Linked DNA regions of Homo sapiens: all the other regions are linked to region 4. Evidence: fine-mapped expression QTL. A gene starts in region 4. Each other region holds a variant in brackets. All regions are shown on one strand. Distances are between the middles of the regions.

What was found. PIP is the estimated chance that this variant, and not a neighbour inherited with it, causes the effect. A credible set is the group of variants that fine-mapping cannot tell apart.
Region 1: its variant is the best candidate, but not a certain one, in a credible set for the expression of PIK3CD in whole blood (INTERVAL, PIP 0.78).
Region 2: its variant is the best candidate, but not a certain one, in a credible set for the expression of PIK3CD in prefrontal cortex (GTEx, PIP 0.79).
Region 3: its variant is the best candidate, but not a certain one, in a credible set for the expression of PIK3CD in aorta (GTEx, PIP 0.86).

Annotation. Positions count from the first base shown.
Region 1 is chr1:9,745,765-9,754,046 of GRCh38, forward strand. It overlaps CLSTN1 (calsyntenin 1), which reads right to left. Exons shown (of 19, transcript NM_001009566.3): 5 at 5,709-5,917; 6 at 4,000-4,149; 7 at 3,697-3,882. Among named protein-coding and RNA genes, the nearest start is that of PIK3CD-AS2, 62 kb to the left of the region's middle. The variant C/T (reference allele first, on the strand shown) is at 4,541.
Region 2 is chr1:9,721,298-9,725,297 of GRCh38, forward strand. It overlaps PIK3CD (phosphatidylinositol-4,5-bisphosphate 3-kinase catalytic subunit delta), which reads left to right. Exons shown (of 24, transcript NM_005026.5): 15 at 147-290; 16 at 464-563; 17 at 678-856; 18 at 947-1,059; 19 at 1,231-1,309; 20 at 1,828-1,995; 21 at 2,672-2,795; 22 at 2,979-3,124; 23 at 3,507-3,639. Among named protein-coding and RNA genes, the nearest start is that of PIK3CD-AS2, 36 kb to the left of the region's middle. RefSeq lists an enhancer at 1-892 and a silencer at 3,766-3,974. The variant G/A (reference allele first, on the strand shown) is at 2,050.
Region 3 is chr1:9,677,315-9,685,596 of GRCh38, forward strand. All of the region lies in intron 1 of PIK3CD (phosphatidylinositol-4,5-bisphosphate 3-kinase catalytic subunit delta), which reads left to right. All of the region lies in intron 1 of PIK3CD-AS2 (PIK3CD antisense RNA 2), which reads right to left. Among named protein-coding and RNA genes, the nearest start is that of PIK3CD-AS2, 6.1 kb to the right of the region's middle. The variant C/G (reference allele first, on the strand shown) is at 4,340.
Region 4 is chr1:9,647,619-9,655,900 of GRCh38, forward strand. It overlaps PIK3CD (phosphatidylinositol-4,5-bisphosphate 3-kinase catalytic subunit delta), which reads left to right and starts at 4,113. Exons shown (of 24, transcript NM_005026.5): 1 at 4,113-4,184. PIK3CD-AS1 (PIK3CD antisense RNA 1) reads right to left here and starts at 6,968. Exons shown (of 2, transcript NR_027045.1): 1 at 6,580-6,968; 2 at 4,992-6,425. RefSeq lists a silencer at 4,026-4,915 and enhancers at 5,096-5,165, 6,306-6,355.

The DNA of each region.
Region 1 (8,282 bases), 98 kb after region 4:
GTTTTTTTTTTTTTTTTTTTTTTGAGACAGGGTCTCCTCTCTCGCCCAGGCTGCAGTGCAGTGGTGCAGCGTTGGTTTACCGCAGCCTTGACCTCCTGAGCTCAAGCAATCCTCCCACCTCAGCCTCCCAAGTAGCTGGGACCACAGGTGTGTGCCACCATGCCCGGCTAATTTTTGTGTTTTTGTAGAGACGGGGTTTCGCCATGTTGTCCAAGCTAGTCTCCAACTACTGGGCTCAAGCGATCCATCTGCCTCAGACTCCCAAAGTGCTGGGATTATAGGTGTGAGCCACCGCGCTCGGCCTGAATAGCATTTCATTGTACAGATACAGCATCACCTACTGACCAGCCTCCCAGGTGGGCACAGAGGCTGTCCCTAACCTTTTCCTATTATAAACCTCACCTGCATGCACAGCTTTATGTGTCTCCATGATTATTCCCTTAAAATAAATTCCTAGAAATGAAATTACTAAGTCAAAAAACATAAAAAATGTTTTCCAACCATTCTTATGTATTGCCATGTTCAAATTAAAAAAATTTTTTTTTGTCCACAGGAAAAGATTTTGCAAGCTCCTTCTTGACTAAGCTATTACTCGGAGCAGCAGGCCTTGGCTGGACCAGCCTGGCCTCTTGAGTAACAGAAGACCTTGGTCCAAATCTTAGCTCCTGAAGCTAGACGTGGTGGCTTGCGCCTGTAATCCCAGAACTTTGAGAGGCTGAGGCAGGCAGATCAACTGAGGTCAAGAGTTCAAACCAGCCTGGCCAATATGGTGAAACTCTGTCTCTACAAAAATACAAAAATGAGCCAGGCATGATGGCAGATGCCTGTAATCTCAGCTACTTGGGAGGCTGAGGTGGGAGAATCACTTAAACACAGGAAGTGGAGGCTGCAGTGAGCCAAGATAGCACGATTGCATTCCAGCCTGGGCGACAGTGAGACTCTGTCTCAAAAGAAAAAAAAAAACCACACACACACACTAGAACCTCAGCTCCTGAATATGTGGGCTTGGGCAAGCTACTTAACCTGCTTTAGTCTCAATTGTTTAATTCCTCTGTAACAAGGTCAATACCCACCTACTTCGTAGACTTGTTGGGAACATTAAGCTAAAACACACATAGAAGTACCTGGAGTAAGGCCAGGCGCAGTGGCTCATGCATATAATCCCAGCACTTTGGGAGGCCGAGGTGGGTGGATCACTTGAGGTCAGGAGTTGGAGACGAGCCTCGCCAACATGGTGAAATCCCATCTCTACTAAACATACAAAAAGTAGCCAGGCATCATGGCACATGCCTGTAATCCCAGCTACTTGGGAGGCCGAGGCAGGAGAATCGCTTGAACCCAGGAGGCAGACGTTGCAGTGAGTGAGATTGCGCCACTGCACTCCAGCCTGGGCGACAGAGGGAGACTGTCTCAAAAAAAAAAAAAAAAAAAAAAAAAAAGTACCTGGTGCATAGTAAGCACTCAAATTATTTCTATTCTTCCTAACTTTATTCTGCTGAAAAAAAATTCACTTAATACCATGAAATGAGAGACGGAATAAATTTTATATATTATACTTACATGCATGGTTTAAAACAGAAAATGTGCCAGACCTCCTTACTTAAATATATTTAGGTGACAATTATGAATATTTGGATTCAGAGTTGCCAAACACCCCCATATGCTCATCATTGGACTGTGGCAGCATAATGTCTAGTTTTCTACTTTGGTTTATTTACCACATGATAATTTTCTTCTTATTTATTGTTTTTTTTCTAAGACAAAGTCTAGCTTTGTCACCTAGGCTGGAGAGTAGTGGCACACTCTTGGCTCACTGCAGCCTCCTGGGTTCAAGCAATTCTCCTGCCTCAGCCTCCCAAGTAGCTGGGAGTATAGGCACCTCGCACCACGCCTGGCTAATTTTTTATTTTTAGTAGAGCGGGGGTTTCATCATGTTGATCAGGCTGGTCTTAGACCCCTGACCTCAAGTGATCTGGATAATTTTCAATTATAAACCAGTGGCCGGGCGCGGTGGCTCATGCCTGCAATCAGCACTTTGGGAGGCCGAGGTGGGCGGATCACGAGGTCAGGAGATCGAGACCATCCTGGCTAACACGGTGAAACCCCGTTTCTACTAAAAATACAAAAAAATTAGCCGGGCATGGTGGCAGGTGCCTGTAGTCCCAGCTACTCGGGAGGCTGAGGCGGGAGAATGGTGTGAACCCAGGAGGCGGAGCTTGCAGTGAGCCGAGATGGCGCCACTGCACTCCAGCCTGGGTGACAGAGTGAGACTCTGTCTAAAAAAAAAAAAAAGAAAACCAGTAACCTAAATCTCATGGTTGTTATCAGGCTAGTGAAAAGACTCATCAGTTTAAGAAAATGCTCCCTGAAAAGCTGTTTCACAAAAGCTTTTTGAAACACAAAAGACCCTTCCAATTTATGAAGACGCTGCTTCATTTAGTGGGATTTTATCACCAGTCAACTAAATGTTCTTCCCTCAACATCTTCCATGACAGCCATCCATACCTCACCTCTTCTTCATTTAGATAAACCAGAAAAATATCCGCAGCTGACAGTAAAGAGAGACCTAGCCTTCTGGTGGGTTTCCCAGTAATTCTGTCTCTCAATTTCTCCACACAATATTGTGATATAGAAAATCTATTGAGATTCTAAGTTAGATGTGGCTATCTTTAGTTCTGATTTTCTACTTCATGTTTGTCAAAAGCTATTGTATTACCTATATTTTTCCTTCAGTTCTTTTTGAGACAGGTTCTCACTCTGTCATCCAGGCTGGAATGCAGCGGCGTGATCTTGGCTCACTGCAACGTCCACCTCCTGGGCTCAAGCGATCCTCCTCCCTCAGCCCCCCAAGTAGTTGGGACTACAGGCGTGCACCGCCATGCCCGGCTAGTTTTTGTTTTTTTTGTAGAGACAGGGTTTTCTCCATGTTGGTCAGGCTGGTCTCGAACTCCTGACCTCAGGTGATCTGCCCACCTCGGCCTCCCAAAGTGGTAAGATTATAGGCATGAGCCCCCATGCCCTGGCCTTTGTCTTCAATTCGTAAGTAAACATCTCATTTCATGTAAAACTCACTCCATGTACTCCTATAGAAGCCCTTTTTGGATGATTCTCAGAGTATGCTGGAGAAATACTTCCTTCAAATCAGTGGTTCTTTTTTTAAAACAGGGTCTCACTCTATTGCCCAGGGTGGAGTGCAATGGTGCCATCACGGCTCACTGCAGCCTCAACCTCCCGGGCTCAGGTGATCCTCCCGCTCAGCCTCCCAAGTAACTGGAACTACAGGTCCATGCCACCATCCCCAGTTAATTTTTCAATTTTTTGTAGAGATGGGGTATCGCTGTGTTGCCCAGGCTGGTCTCAAACTCCTGGGCTCAAGTGATCTTCCCACCTCGGCCTCCTAAAGTGCTGGAATTACAGGTATAAGCCACCACATCTGGCCACCAGTGGTTCTTAAAATGCACATATACACAACATGTTGAATAGACGTTTAGGAGTTGATGTCCACCCCCTGCCCCACCCCCGAAGCCCATCCAGTATGAAAACTAGCCAGCAAGGCAGCAAAGTTCACTTCAGAAATGCAGATTCTCTGTCACAGTTTATAATTATGAACACAACACACACAAGTATTTCCAGTTGTAAAGGTCCCTCCCACCTTCACCAAAGCCAGCCGGATGCAAGAACGCCTGGTCTCCTTACCACAGAGCCGGTGGAGGGACTTCTCTGAGTAGGTGTCTCGGTCGCAGCCTTTCCCTATGTGGCTGGTTTCTAGCTCCACTGTGGCCTGTACTGAGGCGACTGGCTCGTCACATGTCTCCAGGTGGATATTTGGAAAGACGGCCAACGCGCCGGTGCCCGGCTCATACTCAATCCTGTTGTTCCATCCTGTGTTGGTCCACAAGTCAGCAGGGGAAGAGAGAAGGAAAACACACACTCTAGGTTGCTGCCGCATACATCAGTTTTAAGAGCAGATGTGAGCGCAGGGGAGAGAATGAAGCTCACCTTGCCACCCAGGGGTGCAGGTGGGCTTAATGCTGATCTTCACCAAAACATCTTCTGTGGCTCTTTTCTTCCCACAGTCATAGGCAGTGACGGTCAGCTTATATTGATGTTCTTTCCCGTAGTTTAATTTCTCTGTGTTTTTTATATAACCTTACAGAGGGCAAAAACAACAGTGAGAGCCAAAACCCATGCTGGTTTTACTTTTGTTGTCCTAGGCGGAAAGACAAAATGCATAGGCTTTAAGCCCTGTAAATACTCAGCCAGAAATAAACATATGCTTGGGATGCTTAACCCTCAACCTGTCCTCCCTGAGCCCTAACACGCACTAAATCCATCCTGAAGAGTTTCAACAGAAGAGACGGAGCTACACAGCTCAGTCTCCACTTACTCTCACAGTGTTACATTGGGCTTTACATTAAGATTTAACTGTTTACATACATTCAGAGGATTAAAAAATAATAATAATTCAAGTACCTCAAATATTAAATATAAGATCGCTGATCAAACATTTACTATATTAAAAGAAAGAGAGATTTCCTAC[C/T]CCCACCTGCTTAGAACAGAAGCCTGCTTTTTGAACGTGGTGAGTATAGATCTCTGGAAAGTGTTTGCAATGTCCATAATTCCATCAAAGATTCTAGACCGTGCATTGATTAACAATGGAAACACTGTATTATCTTTTTTTTTCTTTTTGGAACAGGGTCTCGTTCTCTTGCCCAGGCTGGAGTGCAGTGGCCTGATCTCGGCTCACTGCAACCTCTGCCTCCTGGGTTCAAGCGATTCTCCCACTTCAGCCTCCCAAATAGCTGGGACTACAGGTGTGTGCCTGCAGTCCCAGCTACTAGCGAGGCTGTGGCGGGAGGATCCCGTGAGCCCAGGAGTTCGAGGTTACAGTGAGCAGTGACTGCACCACTACATTCCAGCCTGGGCGACAGAGCAAGACCTTCCCTCAAACAAAAAAAAAAAAAAAAAAGATGTCACAGGAGATTCTAACTTAATGGAGAACATGGCCAGGCGCGGTGGCTCACACATGTAATCCCAGCACTTTGGGAGGCCAAGGTGGGCGGATCACCTGAGGTCAGGAGTTCAAGACCAGTCTGGCCAACATGGTGAAACCCTATCTCTACTAAAAATACAAACAACAACAACAAAAAATTAGCTGGGCGTGGTGGTGGGCACCTGTAATCCCAGCTACTCGAGAGGCTAAGGTAGGAGAATCACTTGAACCCGGGAGGCAGAGGTTGCAGTGAGCTGAGATCGCACCACTGTACTCCAGCCTGGGGAACAGAGTGAGAAACTGTCTCAAAAAAAAACCACAAAAACAAAAACAAAAAACTTAATGGAGAACAGAAAATGAGACAAACTAAATGTAAAGGTCAGTCTCATTCAGATGCATGTGGACTGAAAGTTAAGAAGATTAAAAAAACAAAGCCATGTCAGGTAGGAGGATTTTTATTTGATTTTGGTGGGAAAGCAAAAAAGAGGTGAGCCCCACAAGAGAACACAGGACTTACAGGTTCCAGAGAAGAAGTTGTCAGGGAACAAAGTAGAAACTTAAATGTTTTTACAATTAAAAGCAAACACACACCAGGTTAGGTCTCCAACTTGTGAGTTCCATGAAGTTCTGACGAAGCACAGAAGCTGGGGTGTAAAGTCAGTGGGGTTAGCAGGGACTGTCTACCTAGCTGAAAAGCCGGCTCCTCGATTCTTACCATCTTTGTCAACAGTAAAGGGCACGTCTGGAGTGATGATTTCGTAGCTGCAAATCTGGCTGAACTGAGGGGAGCAGTCGGCATCCACGGCCTCCACCCTCAAAATGCTGTCGTACTGCTTCCCCTCGATGACCGTGGCTTTGTAGGACTTCTCCTTGAACACGGGCGCGTACTCATTCACGTCGTTCACCTGAATATGAACAGTTGCTCTGGACAAAGGGAGGGAGAAAAATATTTTTCTGCTTGTTTTCAGTGTGAGAGAGAGACAGAGAGTGTGTATGTGTGTTTACCCAATTCTGCCCTACTTTAAAATTTCCTGTTTCTGATACCTTGTTTCATGAAATTCATATGATGAAGTCAAAAATTAAACAAGCTATTCACTGCTTTTCATTCAAGTGTGGAGATAACAGAAAGTTAAAAGAGGGATTTGGGTCGATTCTTCCATATCCTAAGAATAAAGCAAAAAACCAATCATCTAAAATAAAAGAGACTTGGGTGTTTTTTTTTGACAATATGGGACAAGACAGGCAGAAGGGAGATAAACAATACCAGACGTCTGTTTGCTCTCCAATTATAAAGTTGAAACATATTTTGTAGCAAAATCCAGAAAAAAAATAGAGCCAAGGGAAGAAGGGGTATGAAACAGAGAAAGCATGAAATGGTTTGATTCTGAGAGTTCAAACGAATTCTGTCCTACTTCTAGGGAATAGGCTGGAGTCCATGGCATCACCTGGTCCTGATTCAACAAATGGAAGAGTTCAGGAGAGGCAGGCCGTTGCCACCTGCCAATACCCCAGCTCAGTTATCAAGAAAATTAGGGTGTCATCAGACCTGGCTACAAATAAAAAAAACTGTAGGTTTCAAGGGCTAATGGTCAGGGCATGCTTCTGAATCAGTCAAGGACTTTGGTCAAAATCTGACCTTTTCAAGGGAAACAATAACATTACACTGTGGAAAAAGAGAAGAGACTCACTGGGGCACTGCACCTTCTGCTCACCATGAGCCTCCTCATCCCAGTGCCATCGGTCTGACCCTCACAATGGGTTATGTGACACCATCTCGCCCACATACCCTTCTTTAGTAGATGTGCTAAGTAGAAACTGAGACTCAGGGCCGGGTGTGGTGGCTCACACCTATCCCAGCACTTTGGGAGGCTGAGGCAGGAGGGTCACCAGAGGTCAGAGTTAAAGACCATCCTGGCCAACATGGTGAAACTCCGTCTCTACCAAAAATACAAAAATTAGCCAGGTGTGGTGGAGCGTGCCTGTAATCCCAGCTGCTTGGGAGGCTGAGGCACGAGAATCGCTTGAACCCTGGAGGTGGAGGTTGCAGTGAGCCGAGATTGTGCCACCGCACTCCAGCCTGGGTGACAGAGCGAGACTCTGCCTCAAAAAATAAGTAAATAAATAAATAAATAAAACAAAAGAAAAAGAAACAGACTCAACAAAATTAAATTTGCACAATGCCAAAGGGCTAGCAAGTGGTGGAGAAAAGACTAGAGCTCTAGAAAAGACTAGAGCTTACAATCTAATTGTAGAAGACACTGGACTTGAGAACACCAGCAGTCCCCAGCCTTTTTGGCACCAAGGACTGATTTCATGGAAGGCAATTTCTCCACAGATGGGGGTGGGAGGATGGTTTTGGGATGAAAATGCCCCACCTCAGATCATCAGGCAGTCGATTCTCATAAGGAGCGCACAACCTAGATCCCTGGCATGCTCAGTTCACAACAGGGTTCGCGCTCCTGTGAGAATCTGATACCGCTGCTGATGTGACAGGAGGTGGAGCTCGGGCAGAAATGCTCACTCGCTCACATGCTGTTGACCTCCTGCTGTGTGGCCTGGTTCCTAACAGGCCACGGACCAGTACTGGCCCACGTCCTGAGGTATGGCGACCCCTGTTCTATGTTGTCTTGTCCAAAGCCCTCTCTGCTACAACTGCAGTTCCTAACTGGCAGGAGGTGCAGCAACACACTCAGGATTGTGGCAGCGAGCCAGCCTACTTCCACCAGCAGTGACTAATTTTTTTTTTTTTTTGAGACGGAGTTTCATTCTTTTTGCCCAGGCTGGAGTGCAATGATGTGATCTTGGCTCAGTGCAACCTCCACCTCCCAGGTTCAAGTGATTCTCCTGCCTCAGCCTCCCGAGAAGCAGGGACTACAGGCGCGTGCCACCATGCCTGGTTAATTTTGTATTTTTAGTAGAGACAGGGTTTCTCCATGTTGGCCAGGCTGGTCATGAACTCCTGACCTCAGGTGAAAATCACCTCAGGTGATCTGCCTGCCTCGGCCTCCCAAAGTGCTGGGATTACAGGCGTGAGCCACCGTGCCTGGCCAATTTTTGTTGTTATTGTTTTTTAGGGACAGGGTCTCATTCTGACACTCAGACTGGAGTACAGTGGCACAATCATGGCTCACTGCAGCCTCAACCTCTCGGGCTCAAGCAATCCTCCCGCCTTAGCCTCCCAAGTAGCTGAGACCACAGGCATGTGCCACCATACCTGGCTGTTTATGTTTTGTAGAGATGGCATCTCCTACATTGTCTAGGCTGCTCTCAAACTCCTAGGCTCAAGCAA
Region 2 (4,000 bases), 72 kb after region 4:
TGGCTGCCAGGACGTGGGCTCTGGGTGGGGCCTGAACCTTCCCGTGGGCTTGCTCCCTCCTGCCTGGCCTCCCTCTGGCTGCCGAGGGAGCTCCCTCCTGTCCTGAGTCGGGGAGCTCCAGGCCCCAGCGCCTTCCTTCCCTGCAGGGACGATGAGCTGTTCCAGTACCTGCTGCAGCTGGTGCAGGTGCTCAAGTACGAGTCCTACCTGGACTGCGAGCTGACCAAATTCCTGCTGGACCGGGCCCTGGCCAACCGCAAGATCGGCCACTTCCTTTTCTGGCACCTCCGGTAGCGGGACTTGCCCCAGCCGTTCTGTGGGAATCCCAGCCCCTGAGTCTCCCTGGAAGGCCACTGGGGACGTTTCCAGCAGGCCTGGGTGTCCTGGCCTCGCTAGGTCCTGCTGGGCGGGAGGGGCTGCGTGGTGCTGCCTGGTGAGGCTCAGCCCTCCCTTCACCTTCCAGCTCCGAGATGCACGTGCCGTCGGTGGCCCTGCGCTTCGGCCTCATCCTGGAGGCCTACTGCAGGGGCAGCACCCACCACATGAAGGTGCTGATGAAGCAGGTGAGGCCCAAGGCCCTGGGGGGCGGGCAGGGGGCGGCCCTGAGCGTCTGGGAATCCCCAGGGCTGGGTCGAGGCTGGGACCTGCCCACCGCCGCCCTCCCATCTGCCCACCAGGGGGAAGCACTGAGCAAACTGAAGGCCCTGAATGACTTCGTCAAGCTGAGCTCTCAGAAGACCCCCAAGCCCCAGACCAAGGAGCTGATGCACTTGTGCATGCGGCAGGAGGCCTACCTAGAGGCCCTCTCCCACCTGCAGTCCCCACTCGACCCCAGCACCCTGCTGGCTGAAGTCTGGTGAGCCCAAGCCCCGCCACAAGGGTTCCTCCCACCCCTGGGAGGCCGGTAGAGGAGCCCCTGCTGACTGCCCGCTCTCTGGCCTGGCAGCGTGGAGCAGTGCACCTTCATGGACTCCAAGATGAAGCCCCTGTGGATCATGTACAGCAACGAGGAGGCAGGCAGCGGCGGCAGCGTGGGCATCATCTTTAAGAACGGGGATGGTGAGGGCCTGGCCTCCCCACACCCCGCCTGTACTGCCCTGGGGGGTCCTGGGGTGCTCCTAGAGTGGGGGTGGAGAAGACAGAATCCTGGGACTTAAGGGCTTGGGTGTAGCTGGAAGCAGAGAACCTACCAGAAACTCACGCTTCTCCTCCCACCGGCCGGTGGCACAGACCTCCGGCAGGACATGCTGACCCTGCAGATGATCCAGCTCATGGACGTCCTGTGGAAGCAGGAGGGGCTGGACCTGAGGTGAGGACCCCCACCCCACATCGTCCCTTGGTGTCTGTGCCCAGCCTGGGAGTCTGTGCCCCTGGAGGGGTCCTTGTTGAAGGTGGCATGACCATCTCAGCCGGGGAAAGGGCTTTCCTAGGAAGACCCGGAGGCGGTTTAACTCTAGGCCAGGAGGCGGCGGGCAGCAGGATGCGTGAAGGCTGCTCCTGAGGCTTAGTGTGTACCCTGCTCTGTTGCTTTAGTTGCCCAGGTGCCCCTGGCTTCCCCAGCCCATCTTGGGAAGCAGTGGCGTCTTCTCCCAAGGCCTCTGTCTGGTTCTCTTCCAAGCAAATGTGAACTCAGCTGTGGTGCTTTCTGCACCTCAGATGCTGGTGCCGGCATCTCCAAGGAGCCAGCATCTCTCACCTGCTTTTTAGCAATGTGGGCAGCAGCATCTTCTGTGGCTTTTTGGGGCACCATGAGTTTCTGGGGCTCAAGTGGCCTCAGGGACAGCCCTTGACCATGCCATTTGCCCGTCCCTCTTCCCCCTTGCCTAGGATGACCCCCTATGGCTGCCTCCCCACCGGGGACCGCACAGGCCTCATTGAGGTGGTACTCCGTTCAGACACCATCGCCAACATCCAACTCAACAAGAGCAACATGGCAGCCACAGCCGCCTTCAACAAGGATGCCCTGCTCAACTGGCTGAAGTCCAAGAACCCGGGGTGGGTTTCAGGCCCAGGGATAGGTTCCCTCTCCTTTCCAAGAGGTGTGGAGTG[G/A]GAGGGCCTCGCCTGTCAGAACAAAGGAGCGGGGAGGGGCCTCAGACCATCTTTGTGGCTACTTGGCTCAGTTGAGGACCAGCCTGTGTCTGGGTTGGGGTGAGGTAGGTCTCTCTTCCCCAAGTATCAGTGTCTCTTGCTATGCAACACCATCCAAAGCGCAGGGCTTTAAAAAACAGCCATTTACGATTGGCTCACAGATCTGCAGCTGGGGCTGGGCTCAGCCGGGTGGCTTTTCTGCTGGTTCCACATAATCACTCATGCAGCTGTTCTCATCTGGTGCCTTAACTGGGCCAGTGGGGTCTGAGATAACCCATCTCATTCCTGGGGCCTTGGCGCCAGCTGTCTGTGATGCCTCTCTGCATGTGGTCTCCTCATTTAGCAGCCTCACCTTCCTTCCGTGGCTCTGTATTGAGGGTATGGGGTTCAAGATCTGCAGGGGTCTTCATGCCTTGGCTCTGGAATAGCGTCTGCAAGCGATGTCCAGCATTGTGTCCTCCATGTTCTGTTGGTCAAAGCAAGTCACAGGGCCAGATTCAAGGGGAGAGGGAGTAATAACCCACCTCTTGATAGGCGGAGCTGCAAAATGGTATGGCCATGCTTTTTAATCTTCCCCACCCAGGGAGGCCCTGGATCGAGCCATTGAGGAGTTCACCCTCTCCTGTGCTGGCTATTGTGTGGCCACATATGTGCTGGGCATTGGCGATCGGCACAGCGACAACATCATGATCCGAGAGAGTGGGCAGGTACAGGGGCTGGTGCTGGCGGCTGCTGTGGGGACTTGGCTTCTGGCCCCAGCCTGCTGGCCCCTCTGCCTAGCACACAGCTCTGTGGCAGGGGTCCCCCAGCCCTGCTGGCTTCCTGTCTCCCCTGGATTCTCTCCTGTCTGACACCTTCTCAATCCTCCCCCTCCTCTCCCCTCCCCTCAGCTGTTCCACATTGATTTTGGCCACTTTCTGGGGAATTTCAAGACCAAGTTTGGAATCAACCGCGAGCGTGTCCCATTCATCCTCACCTACGACTTTGTCCATGTGATTCAGCAGGGGAAGACTAATAATAGTGAGAAATTTGAACGGTGAGAGTGCCTGAGCCCCACCAGATGCCCCTCGGTGTGGGGCCCCAGGGAACAGGGCAGAGGTTCCCAGGCAGGGTGCAGGATGGGGCTCAGGTCTCAACCCCACACCTGGCCCCTCACCCCAACTGTTGATGGGTTTGGAACATGCCCCTGCTCCACCCTGCAGTGCCCCTTTTGGGCAATGTGGGCAGGTTTGTGGGTCATGTAGCAGGAGGCTGGCTGGGGCACGGGGGTCAGTTAGCAGAACTGGAGGCCTTGTGTCCACCCATTATCAGGGCAAGGGCAGGTGTCCTTGGGGAAGGGGCTGGTTGGATGCAGAGCGGCCCTCTGGCCTGTGGCTGGGAGTTCCCAGAGCCTCACTTCCTCTGTCCCCTACCTGCAGGTTCCGGGGCTACTGTGAAAGGGCCTACACCATCCTGCGGCGCCACGGGCTTCTCTTCCTCCACCTCTTTGCCCTGATGCGGGCGGCAGGCCTGCCTGAGCTCAGCTGCTCCAAAGACATCCAGTATCTCAAGGTATGTGCCGGGCAGGAGACTGCTGTCGCCAGTGGACTTCCAAGGCCTGCCCCCGAGCAATGTGACCTAGGAGGGCCCTGAATGCAGTAGGCCCCAAAGGGCACTGAGCTGTGTGTGCCTCATGCCGTCCCAGGACCCAGCAGTGGAGCTGGTGGGCGGTGGAGGGGAAAGTGGCTGGACCAGAGTTGAGCCGCCCAGGCATGGTTCCACTCAGTGGCAGATGTGTAGTGACCTCTCCTGGTTGGGGTGCTGTGCTCAGGGCTGCGGGGCTTTCAGGTGTCCACTAGGGGGCCGCGTGAGCGCTGGCTCCCTCTGCCTTCTAAAAGATATTTTTTGGCCAGGCTGGGTGGCTCACGCCTGT
Region 3 (8,282 bases), 30 kb after region 4:
TTTGTAGTTTTAAGAGATATTATATGGCCATCTTAAGATTGCAGCAGCAGACCAGGTGCGGTGGCTCACGCCTGTAATCCCAGCACTTTGGGAGGCGGAGGCAGGCAGATCACTTGAGGTCAGGAGTTCAAGACCAGCCTGGCCAACATGGTGAAACCCCGTCTCTACTAAAATACAAAAATTAGCCAGGTGTGGTGGCGTATGTCTGCAGACCTAGCTACTTGAGGAGATGAGGCAGGAGGATCGCTTGAACCAGGGTGGTCAAGGCTGCACTGAGCCAAGATGGTGCCACTGCATTCCAGCCTGAGTGAAAAAGTGAGACCCTGTCTAAAAAAAAAAAAAAAAAAAAAATTACAGCAGAGGCTGCATCTGGGAATTATAGGCCGTGATCTTCCAGATCGTGCATGCGGATGTTTTAAATATATATGCCATATGTTTTATAAATGTGTTTATTCATGCATACTGTACGTTTTTAATTACATGGAATCAACACAAGTTAGTTATTAAAAGTTTATAAAATATAGATTTGGCAGAGTAAGAAAAAAAAGAATCTGGGCCGGGCGTGGTGGCTCATGCCTGTAATCCCAGCACTTTGAGAGATCCAAGGCAGGCAGATCACCTGAGGTCAGGAGTTCGAGACCAGCCCATGGTGAAACCCCGTCTGTACTAAAAATACTAAATTAGCTGGGTGTGGTGGCGCCTGCCTGTAATCCCAGCTGCTTGGGAGGCTGAGGCAGGAGAATCACTTGAGCCCGGGAGGCGGAGGTTGCAGTGAGCCAAGATCGCGCCATTGCAGTCTAGCCTGTGCAACAAGAGCGAAACTCCATCTCAAAAAAAAAAAAAACAAAAACAAAAAAACAAAAATCCGGCCGGGCACTGTGGCTCTCACCTGTAGTCCTAGTACTTTGGGAGGCCAAGGCAAGAGGATCAATTGAGACCAACCTGGGCCATATAGGGAAACCCTGTGTCTACAAAAAACAGCAACACAAAAACTATCCAGGCATGGTGGCACACACCTCTAGTCCCAGCTGCTCGAGAGGCTGAGGCGGGAGGATCGCTTGAGTCCGGGAGGTTGAGGCTGCCATGAGCCTATTATGGCATTGGACTCCAGTCTGGGTGACAGAGCCAGACCCTGTCTCCAAAAAAGAAAAAGAAAAAAACTCCATCTTCCACCTACCCCAGAACCACGTCACCCAGTGGTTCCTAACCTGTCTCAGATTTTAAATCCCTTTGAAAACCTGCAGAAAAGCATGGACTCTCTCCAGAAAAAGGCTCTTTCATCCACAGACTCTGTTGGTGTGCAGGGAAGGACTGTTTAGGTCCAACCTCTAGCTTCTCTGTCGTATGAGATTCTGACTCTGAAACCAACCTCAAAGGGGCAAATCATTCTGACCCTGTGACACCTCTGTAAGACACACTTGCCAGCAACCTATTCAAAGTCTGTCTTGAACCTGTTTCTATTTTCTTTCTTGACCACCTCTTAAAGAAGACATTGCACAAGTTTGCCCCTGCCATTTAAATCCTTTGTCCTAAATTTACAGCCCCTTTCTGGGGCTTTCAGCAAGGATCGACTTTCCTGCGTCTTTGGGTGACTCTCCACTGTATCATCGGCTCATTTCTGGAAGAGGACCATCCTTTGGGGCATGTGTAAGGCCCCTTTTGTGGGAAGGGCCTTGGCTTAGGCACATGGGGAAGCATGCCTGCGAGAGCTGGGTGTGTGAACCTTCTTTCCGGGTAGTCAGGAGAAACTTTTTTTTTTTTTTTTTTTTTTGAGATGGAGTCTTGCTCTGTCGCCCAGGCTGGAGTGCAATGGCACGATCTTGGCTCACTGCAACCTCCGCCTCCCAGGTTCAAGTGATTCTCCTGCCTCAGCCTCCTGAGTAGCTGGGATTACAGGCACGTGCCACCATGCCTGGCTAATTTTTGTATTTTTAGTAGAGACGGGGTTTCACGGTGTTGGCCAGGCTGGTCTTGAACTCCTGACTTCAGGTGATCCGCCCACCTTGGCCTGCCAAAGTGCTGGGATTACAGGCGTGAGCCACCGCGCCTGGTCTGGGGGAAATTTCTATAGAGGATGAGAAGTCAGGGATGTTGACTTCTCATGCTGGGCCTCAGGTGCTTGAGACCAGTCAGGCTCTCCCTGTGAAATTAGCAAGAACTCACCCTTTGGCCAAGTAGGCTGAGCGCCCCACACCCACATCGCCTGTTTACCTCTCAATATTCTCCCAGGCCTTGGTTAGCCGCCCTTAGCCCATGTCCTGTTTCTCAGGCATGAAGAAGGCCCCTGATGTCAGCATCACAGAGCTCTCCCAGCCCTACAGGTGGCCAGCCTTCCTGGAGACCACTCCTGGTGCCATTCCTTGGGCACCAGTGACTTTGCCTCTTCTCCTCCTCCTCTTCTTCCTCGTCATGTTTTAGCATAAGAAGCTTTATTGAGCTAGAATTCACATACCATACAATTCATTTAATGTGCACAATGCAATGGTTTTTTGTTGCTGTTGTTGTTATTGTTTTCGTTTTTATTTTTGAGATGGAGTTTCACTCCTGTCACACAGGCTGAAGTGCAGTGGCGTGATCTCGGCTCATTGCAACCTCTGCCTCCCGGGTTCAAGTGATCCTTCTGTTTCAGCCTCCCGAGTAGCTGGGATTACAGGCGCCCACCACCACACCGGGCTACTTTATGTATTTTTAGTAGAGATGGGGTTTCACCATGTTGGCCAGCCTGGTCTCGAACTCTTAACCTCAGGTGATCCACCCGCATTGGCATCCCAAAGTGCTAGGATTACAGGCATGAGCCATCATGCCTGGCCTAATGGTTTTTATTTTTATTTTTAAATTTTTTGTAGAGATGGAGTCTTGCTATGTTGCCTAGGCTGGTTTCAAACTCTTGGTGTCAAGTGATCCTCCCACCTCGGCCTCCCAAAGTGCTAGGATTACAGGTGTCAGTCACCAAACCCCGCCTCAGTGGTTTTTAGTATATTCACAGTTATGCAACCATCAGCATCATAAATTTTAAGCTGTGCATGGTGGCTCATGTCTGTAATCCAAGCACTTTGGGAGGCTGAGGCTGAACTCACTTGAGCCTAGAAGTTCAAGACCAGCCTGGGCAATATAGTGAGACCCTGTCTCTATTAAAAAAAAAAAATTAAAACATTTTCATCACTCCAAAAAGAGATTTCACACCATTAGCAGTTACTCTCTACTTTTCTTCCATCTCTCAGCCTCTGGCAACCACTAATCTGCTTTCTGTCTCTATGGATTTGCCTGTTCTGGACATTTCATATAAATGGGATGATACACTATGTGGTCTTTTGGGGTTGAGTTTGCACCTTAGCATATTGCCTTTAGAAACCTGTCTGCCTCATACCATTACAGAGGAGCTGTTGTTTGTACTGACCATTTAGTCCATCACAGGTATTGATGGAGCCTCTAAGCATGGAATAGTGCTGGCCCCACAGCAGGAACGCGGCAGCCATGGGTGGCGTATTAGTTACTGGTTGCTGTTTAACAAATCACGCCAACACTTGGCAGACTGAACAGCAAGCATTTATGATCCCGTAGTTTCTGTCAATCAGGAATACAGGAGCCGCTTCGTTGGGTGGTTCCGGTCCAGGGTCTCATGAGGCTGCCATTGAGCTTTCAGTGGAGGCTGCAGGTGTCTGGGGCTGGAGGTACCTGCCACAGCGTGGTTGGCAGGCTCAGTGACTGGCTGGCTGTTGGCCAGATATCTCAGTTCCTCTTCATGTGGGCTTCTTCATAGGGTGGCTTGAGTGTCCTTATAGCATGGCCACTGGCTTACCCCAGAGCAAGAGATGAGAGCACTGGAGAGAGACAGAGAGAGAGAGAGAAGAGGGGAGGGGAGGGGAGGGGGTGTATAAGCCCAAGACTGAAGCCCCAGTGATGTTTCATAACCTAATTTTTTCATTAATTAATTAATTAATTTTAGAGATAGGGTCTCTGCTGCCCAGGCTGAGGTGCAGTGGCACAATCAGAGCTCACTGCAGCCTCCAGCTCCTGGGCTCAAGCAACCCTCCAGCCTCACCCTCTCAAGCAGCTGGGACTACAGGTATGCATCACCATGCCTGGCTGCTGCTGCTGCTTTTTTTGTTTGTTTGTTTGAGACGGAGTCTCACTCTGTCACCCAGGCTGGAGTGCAGTGGCGCAATCTCGGCTCACTGCAACCTCCCCTTCCCGGGTTAAAGCGATTCTCCTGCCTCAGCCTCCCGAGTAGCTGGGACTACAGGCGTGCGCCACTAGTTTCTGTATTTTTAGTAGAGATGGTTTCACCATGTTAGCCAGGCTGGCTTGAACTCCTGACCTCAGGCAATCTGCTCGCCTC[C/G]CCGCCTCGGGCTCCAAAAGTGCTGGGATTACAGGTGTGAGCTACCAAACCTGGCCCGGATTCTTTTATAATCTAATGTTAAAGGTGCTATCCCATCACTGTGCCATATTCTTTAGGTCACATTGACTGTGAATGTGGGTGGGGGCTACACAACGGTGAGAATCTCAGGACGGAAGTAACTGAATGTAGTTTCATATGGAGAGTGATCCAGCTTGTTCTGGAAGGGACTGCAGTCTCCCCGGGACTTAGCTTTGGAGAATGAGCCAGCTTGTTCTGGAAGGGATTTCAGTCTGCCCAGGACTTAGCTTTGGACCAGCTATGAGTTCTCTGTGATGAAATCTCAGCTTTTCCCAACTGCAGCTTCAACCTCCTGAGTTCAAGTGATCTTGTTGCCTCAGCCTCCTGAGTAGCTGGGACTACCACCACGCCTGGCTAATTTTTGTATTTTTTGTAGAAATAGGGTTTTGCCACGTTGGCCAGGCTGGTCTCCAACTCCTGAGCTCAAGCGATCTGCCTGCCTTGGCCTACCAAAGTGCTAGGATTACAGACATGAGCCACCACACCTAGCCAAGGCTGCGTTTTTATTTTTTATTTTATTATTAGTATTATTTGAGACAGAGTTTCACTCTTGTTGCCCAGGCTGGAGTGCAGTGGCGCCATCTCAGCTCACTACAACCTCCGCCTCCAGGGTTCTCCTGTCTCAGCCTCCTGAGTAGCTGGGATTACAGGCATGCCACTACACTTGGCTAATTTTTGGTATTTTTAGGAGAGACGAAGTTTAACCATGTTGGCCAGGCTGGTCTCGAACTTCTGACCTCAGGTGATCTGCCCACCTCGGCCTCCCAAAGCGCCGGGATTATAGGCGTCAGCCACCACGTCTGGCCTGGGTATTTATTTATTTATTTCGAGACGGAGTCTCGCTGTCTCACTCTGTTGTCCAGGCTGGAGTGCAGTGGCACGATTTCAGCTCACTGCCATCTCCGCCTCCTGGGTTCAAGCGATTTTCCTGCCTCAGCTTCCCGAGTAGCTGGGATTACAGGTGCACACCACCACAGGTGGCTAATTTTTGTGTTTTTAGTAGAGACAGGGTTTCACCATGTTGGCCAGGCTGGTCTCAAACTCCTGACCTCAGGTGATCCACCCTCCTTGGCCTCTCAAAGTGCTGTGATTACAGTCATGAGCCACCACTGGGGTTTTAAATGTGTAACAATGGATGTCCATTTTAGTGGGAACTGACCCTGTCCCTCAGGGACACTCATGGGCCAACCAGGAAAGGAGATGTCTCTGCTGACTTCTGTTAGATGGTGTAACCCATCATAGGGGTGACCCAGTGCCATGGTGGGACGTGTCAAACGCTTTCCCCACTGGGATTGGGCCCTGGACCTTTTTTTTTTTTTTTTTTGGGGGGCTGGGTCTCGCTAAGATGGCACCACTGCATGCCAGCCTGGGTGACAAAGGGAGACATTGTCTCAAAAAAAAAAAAAAAACCAAAAAACCAAAACAGGCTGGGCATGGTGGCTCATGCCTGTAATCCCAGCACTTTGGGAGGCAGAGGCGGGCGGATCACCAGGTCAGGAGATTGAGACCATCCTGGCTCACACGGTGAAAACCCATCTCTACTAAAAATACAAAAAATTAGCCGGGTGTGGTGGCGGGAACCTGTAGTCCCAGCTACTCGGGAGGCTGAGGCAGGAGAATGGCGTGAACCCGGGAGGCAGAGCTTGGAGTGAGCCGAGATCGCGCCACTGCACTCCAGCCTGGGCGACAGAGTGAGACTCTGTCTCAAAAAAAAAAAATAAAAACAACAACAACAACAACAAAAAAAACGAGCCTTGTGCCTTATAGCAGTGGGACAACTTGGTGTTAGAAGCAGTTTTAGGTGGTGGTTCCAGGTGGGTTCTGATTCCTGCTCTGTCACTTCCTGCACGGCTTCGGCGTCAGTTTCCTCATGAAGATGACTATTGTAACTATTTAGTGGGGTTGTTTTGAGGATTTTATGAGATCTTCAGAGTTCTAGGGATCTCTTGCTACATAACAGCCTGTCCCAAGCTCAGCGGTATAAAGCAACACTGTGATGCTCACGGTCCCAGGGGCCAGGAATTCCGACAGAGCTCAGCAGGACGGCCTGGCTCTGCTCCCATGATATCTGGAGTCAGCTGGGAAGACTCTCAAGGGGTTGGTAACAACTTGAACAGGTGGGGTCTGGAATCATCTGGAAGTTTCATCACTCATGTCTGGTACCTGGGTGGGATGACGAAGGTTGGGCTCAGGTGGGACTGTCAACTTGAGTGCCTTCACATGGTTTCTCCTTCTGGCTTGCTTGGGTTGTGTCACTGCATGGCAGCGTCAGGGTAGTCAGACCTCTAACTTAATGCTCAGAATTCCAAGAGCCAGCATTCTAACCAAGGAGGAAGCGGCATGGCTTCTCATGGCCTCACCTCTCAAGTCACTTAGCATCTCTGCTGCCATACTCTCTTGGCAGTCACAAGCCCACTAGATTTAAGAGGAGGGGACACAGAGGCCATCTCTCAATGGGAGGAGTCCCTGCAACCACGAGCCACACGTGCTTTTTGGCTGATACTTGAAAGAATGAGCAATGCAGGCTGGGCGCAGTGGCTCACGCCTGTAATCCCAGCACTTTGGGAGGCCAAGGAGGGTGGATCACCTGGGGTCAGGAGTTCGAGACCAGCCTGGCCAACATGATGAAACCCCATCTGTACTGAAAATACAAAAATTAGCTGGGCATGGTGGCAGGCCCCTGTAATCCCAGCTACTTGGGAGGCTGAGACAGGAGAATCGCTTGAACCCAAGAGGCCGAGGTTGCAGTGAGCTGAGATGGTGCCACTGTACTCCAGCCTGGGCGACAGAGAGAGACTCCGTCTCAAAAAAAAAAAAAAAAGAAAAAAGAAAGAGCAATGCAGTTGGGTGTGATGGCTCACATCTGTAATCCCAACACTTTGTGAGGCTGAGGCAGGCAGATCCCTTGAGCCTAGGAGTTTGAGACCAGCCTGGACAACATAGCAAGACCTCAAGACCTCATCGCTACAAAAATTAAAAATTAGTTGGGCATGGTGGCACACACCTCAGCTACTCGGGAGGCTGAGGTGGGAGGATCACCTGAGTCCACAAGGTCAAGCACCTGTGATAGCGCCACTGCACTCCAGCCTGGGTCACAGTGTGAGACCCTGTCTCAAAAAAAAAAAAAAAAGAAAGAAAAAAGAAAAAAGAATGAGCAATGCAAACCCAAGCTTTTTTTTTTTCTCTCTCTGCTTATATCCCCAACCCCTCAACTCCTGCCCCAGGTCACAAACTCAGGAAGCCTCAATTAAGACAGACTTTTAGTCTAAGCTTGGAGAATTGAGGAAGGAAAGAAGGAAGTGCCAGATGCTAATTAACTTTGCTTTTTAACTACAGATGAGCCACTTTTTGAGTTACCCAGGGGTGAGAGTCTCAAAGATAAATGAAAATATGTAAGGATGGCAGGAGAGCATGGGCCTCTTATAATTAGGTCCCTCATTCTTGTGCTTTGAGAATAAAAATATCAAGGGTGGAATATGTGAGTAAATATGGAAACTCCTTTGAGGATTTTTTTGGAGCCCTCCTGTTTATTCTAATAGAATTAAAAGCAAACATGTAACTGGTTTTTTTGTTTGTTTGTTTGTTTTTGGTTGTTGTCTTTAGTTGCTTTTTTTTGGTTATACTTAATTTATTTTTTTATTTTTTGAGATGGAGTCTCGCTCTGTTGCCCAGGCTGGAGTGCAGTGGCTCGATCTGGGCTCACTGAAACCTCCGCCTCCCAGGTTCAAGCGAATCTCGTGCCTCAGCCTTCTGAGTAGCTGGGATCACAGGCATGCACCACCACACCTGGCTAATTCTTGTATTTTTAGTAGAGATGGGGTTTCACCATGTTGGCCAGGCCAGTCTCGAACTCCTGACCTCAGGT
Region 4 (8,282 bases):
ACCTCAGCCTCCCAAGTAGCTAAAACTACAGGCACATGCCACCATGCCTGGCTAATGTTTTATTTTTTGTAAAGATGAGGTCTCACTATGTTGCTCAGGCTGGTCTTGATCCTCTAGCCCCAGCCTCCCAAAGTGTTGGAATTCCAGGTGTGAGTCATCCTGGCCTACTAATGAGTCTAAAATTGGGAGTCCCTCAGAACCAGGACAGGTTCAAAGGGCTTCAGCCAGTAACACAGTCAGAGTGTTTATGGATGTAAAACAGAAGTAAGCTATAGAGCTTAATTGGTTACAGTGTTTGCTTTGTTTGAATCAGTTGGCCACCTAAGATCTACTAAAGCTCAGCTGCTATAACTGACAAAAACTCAGCTATTTGCTACATGTATATACTCTTAAGTTAATTAGTTTCATTTACCATGAATGACTCCATATTGGTTTGGTCTGTTGGACCCGGTACAGGGGTCTTGTCCCAATCAATGGCCTCCTGCAAATTTTATTTAACAGGCAGAAAAGGGGAGATGATAGAAAGATCTCTTCATCTGCCTGCTGCTTCTTAATTGCCTTAAGTTCAAAAATATTTACGTCAAAGAGGTATATTTTGGGGGGACATATTCTGGTTTCCTTCATGGGGATCAAAGAGAACAATATGTAAGGCACATCTTAGCGCTTGACAACTTGGCATGCCTCCATTCTCCCGGCAGCATCTTGCATAGTAAAAAGCATGATTTGAATTGCTGTCAGCAAATACATATTCAATGAAGAATTCCTTTGGAAGATGCAAAACCATTCGTCATCTGGCTGTTTCTTGAAACAAACTCTAAAGACCAGAGGGCAGCGTTGAAAGTGCAGCCTAGCAAAAGCATGGTTAAGGCCAGGTGTTAGGAAACCTTAGGACGGGCCGCTCCCTCAGGACAGGCTGCTCACTCGGCCGTCAGAGTTCCTTCTGAAACGTCCATTTGTCTTCTGGCTCTTGGCATCCTTGAAACAGGCTAGAGACCGCTGCTAAGGCTCAGTAATCTGAGCCTGGGGTAAGCAAGAGGCTGTGAGCCTCAGACACTCCACTAGAAAGGATATACTAGTGTGCATTCCTGGGGACAGGCCCAACGTTCCTTCCAAAAGGGACCTGTGGTCCTTCCTGGCTCCTCTGCAAGTGTCCACTGGAGAACACAGAATCTGCAGCCTGCATCTTAGAAAACCTGGACCAGGCCGGGCGCAGTGGCTTATGCCTGTAATCCCAGCACTTTGGGAGGCTGAGGCGGGCAGATCACCCGAGGCCTGAGTGTGAGACCAGCCTGGCCAACATGGTGAAACCTCGTCTCTACTAAAAAATACAAAAATTAACCAGCCATGGTGGCACGCATCTGCAGTCCCAGCTACTTGGGAGGCTGAGGCATGAGAGTCGCTTGAACCCGGGAGGCCAAGGTGGCAGTGAGCCAAGATCATGCCACTGCACTCCAGCCTGGGTGACAGAGCAAGACCCTGTCTCAACAAACAAACAAACAAACAAAAAAAGCAAAAACAAAAAAAACTGGAACAATTGAGCAAGCCACTCCATCTTACCCAAGCCCTCTCCCCTTTCCTGGCTGGAATAACGGCCTCTGGGCCTCTCTCTCGCTCTTTTTCTTTTTTTTTCAAAGCAGAATCTCACTCCATCACCCAGGCTGGAGTGCAGTGGCACAGTTATGGCTCACTGCAGTCTCAACCTCCAGGGCTCAGGTGATCCTCCCACCTCAGCCTCCCGAGAATCTGGAACTACAGGTGCACACCACTAAACCCGGCTAATTTTTTCTATTTTTTTGTAGAGACTGGGTTTTGCCATATCACCCAGGCTGGTCTCAAACTCCTGGCCTCAAGGGATCCTCCAGCCTCGTCCTCCCAAAGTGCTGGGACTACAGGCCTGAGCCATCATGCCTGGCCTGGGCCTCTGCTTATTGCAGCCTCTGGAGCCAGCACGGGGCCCAAGGTGGTCCTGAGAGGCCCAGGCATCTCTTGGGTAGAAAAAGTCCTTCTCTAAGCCTCAGATCCCTCATCTGTCCAAGGGACCAATAACAGCTGCTTTACTTCCCAGGCTGGATTGAAGAGGGTCCTTTAAGCCATTGTTTCACTAAGCAATTGACTGGCTCACCCTTCACCCTATCCTGGGAGGGCATGAAGCCACTGTTGTAATCTCAGGGGTGGGCTCACCCACCACCCCCATACTCTTGGTCCACCAAAGCCTGGAGGTCGCTGCTGTCAACCCAGGGCTGAGCAAGGAGGGACTTAGGCCCTGGGCTGTCTCCCCGAGCCTCTCAGTCATGCCTGCTGTAGGGGAGGAGAGAGTGGCCTCCCTCTACCCTCTAAATTCCTTGGCTGGGCTCCACATTAAATTTACATAAGGCAGATTAACAAGAGAAAAACCATGTGTAACTAAGACCTATGCATGGGAATCCCACAAAATACAAGACTGGATGAAGGCTCAGATGAATAAAGCTCATATAACATCCTACAAGGGACAGGAAACATTCCTTCAGAAAGGAATAGGGCTTGGGTCAGGTGTGGTGGTTCACGCCTGTAATCCCAGCACTTTGGGAGCCTGAGGCGGGTGGATCATGAGGTCAGGAGTTCAAGACCAGCCTGGTGAACATGGCGAAACCCCACCTCTACTAAAAATACAAAAATTAGCCAGGCACGGTGGTGTGCACCTATAGTCCCAGCTACTCAGGAGGCTGAGGCAGGAGAATTGCTTGAACCCAGGAGGCTGAGGCTGTGGTGAGCCAAGATCACGCCACTGCACTCCAGCCTGGGCAACAGAACAAGATTCCTCAAAATAAACAAAACAAAGAAACAAAACAACAAAAAACAAACAAAAAAACATGAAAATCAGCTGGGTGTCGTGGCGTGTGCCTGTAATCCCAGCTACTTGGGAGGCTGAGGTAGGAGAATTGCTTGAACCCAGGATGCAGAGATTGCAGTGAGCCGAGATGGCACCACTGCATTCCAGCCTGGACAACAGAGCAAGACTGTCTCAAAAAAAAGAAAAGAAAAAAGAAAAAGAAAGAAAAGAAAAGAAAAAAAGGAATAGAGGCTTGGGATCCTGGGGAGGTGGTACACAAGTTAAGGGAGAGTGAGGGGAGAGAGGGTAAGGTGAATGAAGCTTGTCTTCTTATGCGGATAAAATTTCTCAGGTAAGAAAAGTTAGCTCTGAGCAGCCCTCCGCCTGATACTAATACTTTACCAATGGAGATTTTCCTTTTCTTTTCTGTTTTTGAGACAGGGTCTCACTTTGTTTCCCAGGCTGGAGTGCAGTGGTGCCATCATGGATCACTGCAGCCTCCATTTCCCTGGCTCAAGCCATCCTCCCACCTCAGCCTCCCGAGTAGCTGGGACTACAAGGTGTGCACCACCACGACTGGCTAATTTTTAATTTTTTTGTAGAGACGGGGGTTTCCCTATGTTGCCCAGGCTGGCTTGAATTCCTGGGCTCAAGTGATCCTCCCGCCTCGGCCTCCCAAATTGCTGGGATTGCAGGAGTGAGCCACAGTGCCAGGCCTGGAGATTTTCTTTATAGATAGAAATCATTTTACAAAAGGACAGCTTTTCAGATCTACTCCTGTGCCTGCAGTTTCTAAGAATAATCCCTTCAAAATATGGCGAAGAAGTATATTTTGGGGTGGCACACGCTGGTCTCCCATAGTCACATTTTGGGTGTGTGTCCTGAGCCCCAACACTGGTCACCTCGCAATGGCGCTTGGGGTCCCTGGGTGCCTAGAGCTGCAGGTTACCCCCTCTTCTTCTCCTGCTCTCAGCCTTTCTCCCGCTCCTGCTGAAATTCTTTCCTGCGTGAAGGCGGAGCGCTTAAAGGCGCCTAGGACCTTTATTTCGTTGTTTTCCTTTGCATAAAAAGAAAACTTGTTTTGTAGAAGGGCAAGCAAGGTGCAGCTTCCAGAGGCACCTGGGATGATGCCCCTCTAGCGGTAGGCGAACTGGGGAGTGTGGGCGGCGGGGGAAGGCGAGGCCCTGGAGGACCTGTTGTTTTTCCTGTTGCAAGTGAAAAGGAAACAAAGTGGGAAGTGGAGTGTGCGGGTTGGCGGCAGGCGGGGCGCCCCGGCGCGCCCCGCCTCCCTCCCTCGAGGCTCACTCGCGCCCAGCGCAGTCGCTCCGAGCGGCCGCGAGCAGAGCCGCCCAGCCCTGCCAGCTGCGCCGGGACGGTAAGCGATCGCCGCTGGCTGCGTCAGGGGAGGTGGGAAGAGGACCGCGGCCAGGGGCTTTGGGAGCTGCGGCTGCGCTCGGGGGCGCGGGGCTGGCTGGCGGGCGTCTCTCCGGCACACACAGCCCGTGCGCCCTGGCCCTGGGCGCCTCCCCGAGTCTAGCGAGCCGGGTCCTGGGAGCCCCGGGGGCCGGGCTGCTGGGACCTGGGCGGGGGCTGCCCTAGAGGCCCGGGGCCGTCCCCCGTGGGCCCGCCGAGAGGGGCGTGCGCAGCTCCCCGGCGCCTGCACTGCGCGCCTTGCCCGCCTGGCCCGGCAGCGGGGTTTCAGCTGCGCTCACAGCGGCGGTGCGGCCTCCGGTGCGCCGGCTGAGGCGCGAGGATACTGGAAGCGCTCAGCGCGTGCGCCCGCTCCGAGCGCTGACTAGAGGACCAGGGGCCTCCTCTGTACGGCAGCGGGGTCCACAGAGAGCGCGCTGGTGATGTCGCCCGAGTGCCCTGGCGCGGAGAGAGGGCTGCGCACAGTTCGCCGGCGCCCGGGTCCTGTGCGCCCTTCCCAGCCTGGGCAAGTGGGGAGCGGGGCTGCAGAGGGGCCGGGGTGGAAGTTTTCGGGGCTTCCTCCCGGCTCGTGGACCCGCGCCCCGCCTCCCAGTCCCGGGCCTCCCGCGTTGCTCGCCGCGTTTGCTGCAGCGGCGCAGGCGAGATCAGCTCCGGATCTGCGGCCGAGCCGGGGTTACGCCGGCAAAACCGCCCCCAGCTTTGCATTTCCGGACTTTTTAAAAAAATACTCTTACCCGTAATTCAGCCTGAATGAGGCTTTTTAAAAAAATCGAGTTTCCTGTTTTTATTTAGGCTTCCTCATTTGCACCTCCTCCTTTGAGGTAGAGAAGAGGGGAACTGGGACGACCTTTCGTGGGCACCAGGATGGGGGCGTTGCAGGGCGGGGAGACGGGGGTCCAGAGAACCGGGGAAGGGCCGCTGGGAGGTCCCGAAAAGTGCGCTGTGGGTGGGGCGAGGGTGAAGCAGGTAGGGGCGAGATTTCCGGGGTCGCGGGTGGGGGGCGCCCTGGAGCGGCCAAGGTGCAGGGTCCTCGCGTGGCACCCTTGGGATCTGCCCAGTTTGCGGATGGAGCGCGGGGCTGATCGGGCAGGTCTCACTTGTGCAGGTGTTCCCTGGAAGGTGGGACCTGCAGATCTTGAACCCCACCAGACTCCATCAAGGGGGCTTCTTCCCGCCGATTCCTGAGAAGTCCTACCTCTGAGATGCTGGGCACAGCCGCACGTGGATGTGGGCGGGTGTGCCGTGGGTTGGAGTGGGAAGGGGCAATTATTCCTCTCTCAGGGCTCTCGGAGGGGAAGGTTTACTGCTCCCTAGGGACTTTGAAACCAAGGGCTAACCCCCTGCTCTCTTCCAGGAGAGTGGGATACCGCCCGGGTGCCTGACGGTGCCTTGGTGTTCTTGACAATTGAATGGTACCATCGGGACATTACTCCCCAAAGAACTGGTCGTTCTTACCTAGGTGATTTCAGCTGGACAACTGTAGGAGCTGAGTGGTGTTGTCTTCATTTTACAGTTAAGGAAACGAAGGCTCAGAAAAGTTAAATAACTCACCAACCCACACAGTTTACAAGTAGTTTCTCCAGGATCCCAGCTCTTTCCGACGCCAGCGCGTTTAATCATCTGGGGGTGCCGTTGCTTGCGGGGGAAGGAGAATGTCCTAGTAATTCTCTTGGGGGGGATTTGGAGGGGACGACTGTTCAGAGAGGCACCCTCTAAGATACCCTTGAGACTCCTCTGTAACACCCGCTGCTGCTGTTCACACCCCCTCCCCAATTTGATTGATGTGTTGAGTGGGGCGGAAGGTTCTTTTGGTTGATGAGGCTGCGACCAAACGCAAGGAGATATAAATAGAGCTTTCTCTTTGGCTCTCTCTAGAGCAGAAATGCCAACCCCTTAGCATTTCCATGGCCTGCTGGAGTTTCATTTCTTGATATTAGGATTCCAGCCATCTTGGCTGGTGAGAGGCCTGCTGGCGGCTTCCTGGGCTTGGTCCTCTTTTGGTGCTTTCACAGAATGATGGAAGACACTGGAGTGGGCTGGAGGAGTGCTCTTAAAACCCAGTTGTGGCTGAGAGCGGTAGCTCATACCTGTCATCCCAGTGCTTTGGGAGGCCCAGACGGGAGGATCACTTGAAGCCAGGAGTTCAAGGTTGCAGTAAGCTATTACAGTGCCACTGCGCTCCAGCCTGGGTGACAGAGCAAGAGCCCATCTCTGAGAAACATAATACAACAACCCAGTTGCCTGCTCCAGAGACAACTAAGCTAGCCTCCTTCTGAGCCCCACTTCCCCCGCCCTTCAGCCCCTGTTCAGAAACAGACTACATTGGCCACACTACTCACTTAGATGTTTCTGGAATTAGGGCACGTGCCCCAGAGGTACTCCCGACCACGCAGATGTCCCCTTCTGGCAGGAAAAGCGCGTTTCTGCGTTTCTGCAGCCTCAGTCCACGCCGCCAGGTCTTTGCACTAAGCTGTGGGCTCCGTTTCTCCTCCGATACCATGTTTAGCAAGTGTTTCCTGAGATCACACGGGGTGCCAGGGGCTGTGCTAAGAACAGGGCAGGCAGACTGGGAGGGCATCAGCCCCTGGGGGGCTTACAGGACAGACAGTCCACCAATGGTTGTGCGAAAGCCAGCCCGCTTTCGCACAACTGTCCGATGGAATTCATGGAGGTGGGAGTGGGGATGGTGAGAGTCGGTTCCTGCTTCATCTTGTTTTACTTAAATTGCACAGTGAAAGGGAGAAGTGAATGTGCAACGGATGAAGCAATTCCCCTTTGGCTGGGTTATTTTCAAAACCATTTTTGTGTAGAGAGCAGTTCCCGCCCTCCCTGAGGCCAGCTGCCGGTGTGGGCCTGATGGTGGGGTTTGGGGCCCCAGCAAATGTTTCCTTAACGTGGGACCTTCAGAAGGCTCTTTCAGGCTGGGCGCGGTGGCTCACGCCTGTAATTCCAGCACTTTGGGAGGCCGAGGTGGGCGGATCACTTGAGGTCAGGAGTTCAAGACCATCTTGGCCAACATGGTGAATATCTGTCTCTACGAAAAATGCAAAAAAAAAAAATTAGCTGGGCGTGGTGATGAGCACCTGTAATCCCAGCTACTTGGGAGGTGGAGGCAGGAGAATCGCTTCAATCCGGGAGGTGGAGGTTGCAGTGTGCTGAGATTGTGCCACTGCACTCCAGCCTGGGCAACAGAGTGAGACTACATTTCAAAAAAAAAAAAAAGAAAAAAAAGCTCTTTCAGCCAGGAGGGTGGCTTCAGCTACTCCCCAGGGGACAAGTGTGTTTTTCAGCAAAGCTGTTAGAGAAGATGGTCTAGAAGCAGTACCCCGGGATGGAGGAGACAAGGAAGGGCCCTATCCACTGGAGGATGGCAGAGCCTGGCTTGTTTGAAAGGGAGGAAAATATTGTCATCTTGGTACCGGTGACAGTGTTTCATAAATAGCGAAGGTGGCAAAACGCCACCTCTCTCCCTACAGTTAACGCTAAGACTGAGTTGTCTTTAGTTTGGTTGGTGGAAATCCCCGGCAATCATAGCAGAAATGCTGCCAGTTTCAAGATGGAAAAAATAAAAAACCCAGGAACCCCCCGCCCCCCCCCCTTTTTTATTGCAGCTAAACACTGTGACTTGCTGTGGGTCCTACCAAAATAACGGCCATTCTCCCCTCCCTGAGGGCCAGCACAGTCCCTAGGGCCTGTGAAAGTTCCCCTTCCAGCTGCACTGGCTGGATATGCGTGAAACTCCCCTCCCTCCCCAGAAGTCACAACCTTACCACCTCGGATAAGGGTCAGGGCTCCTGGAAATGGGTCCCTTTTCCTATTACTTTCTTTCTTTTTTCTTCTTTTTTTTTTTTTTTTTTGAGACGGAGTCTCGCTTTGTCGCCCAGGCTGGAGTGCAATGGTGTGATCTCGGCCCACTGCAACCTCTGCCTCCAGGTTCAAGCGATTCTCCCACCTCAGCCTCCTGAGTAGCTGGAATTACAGATGTGCGCCACTATGGCCAGCTATTTTTAGTATTTTTAGCAGTGACGGTGTTTTGCCATGT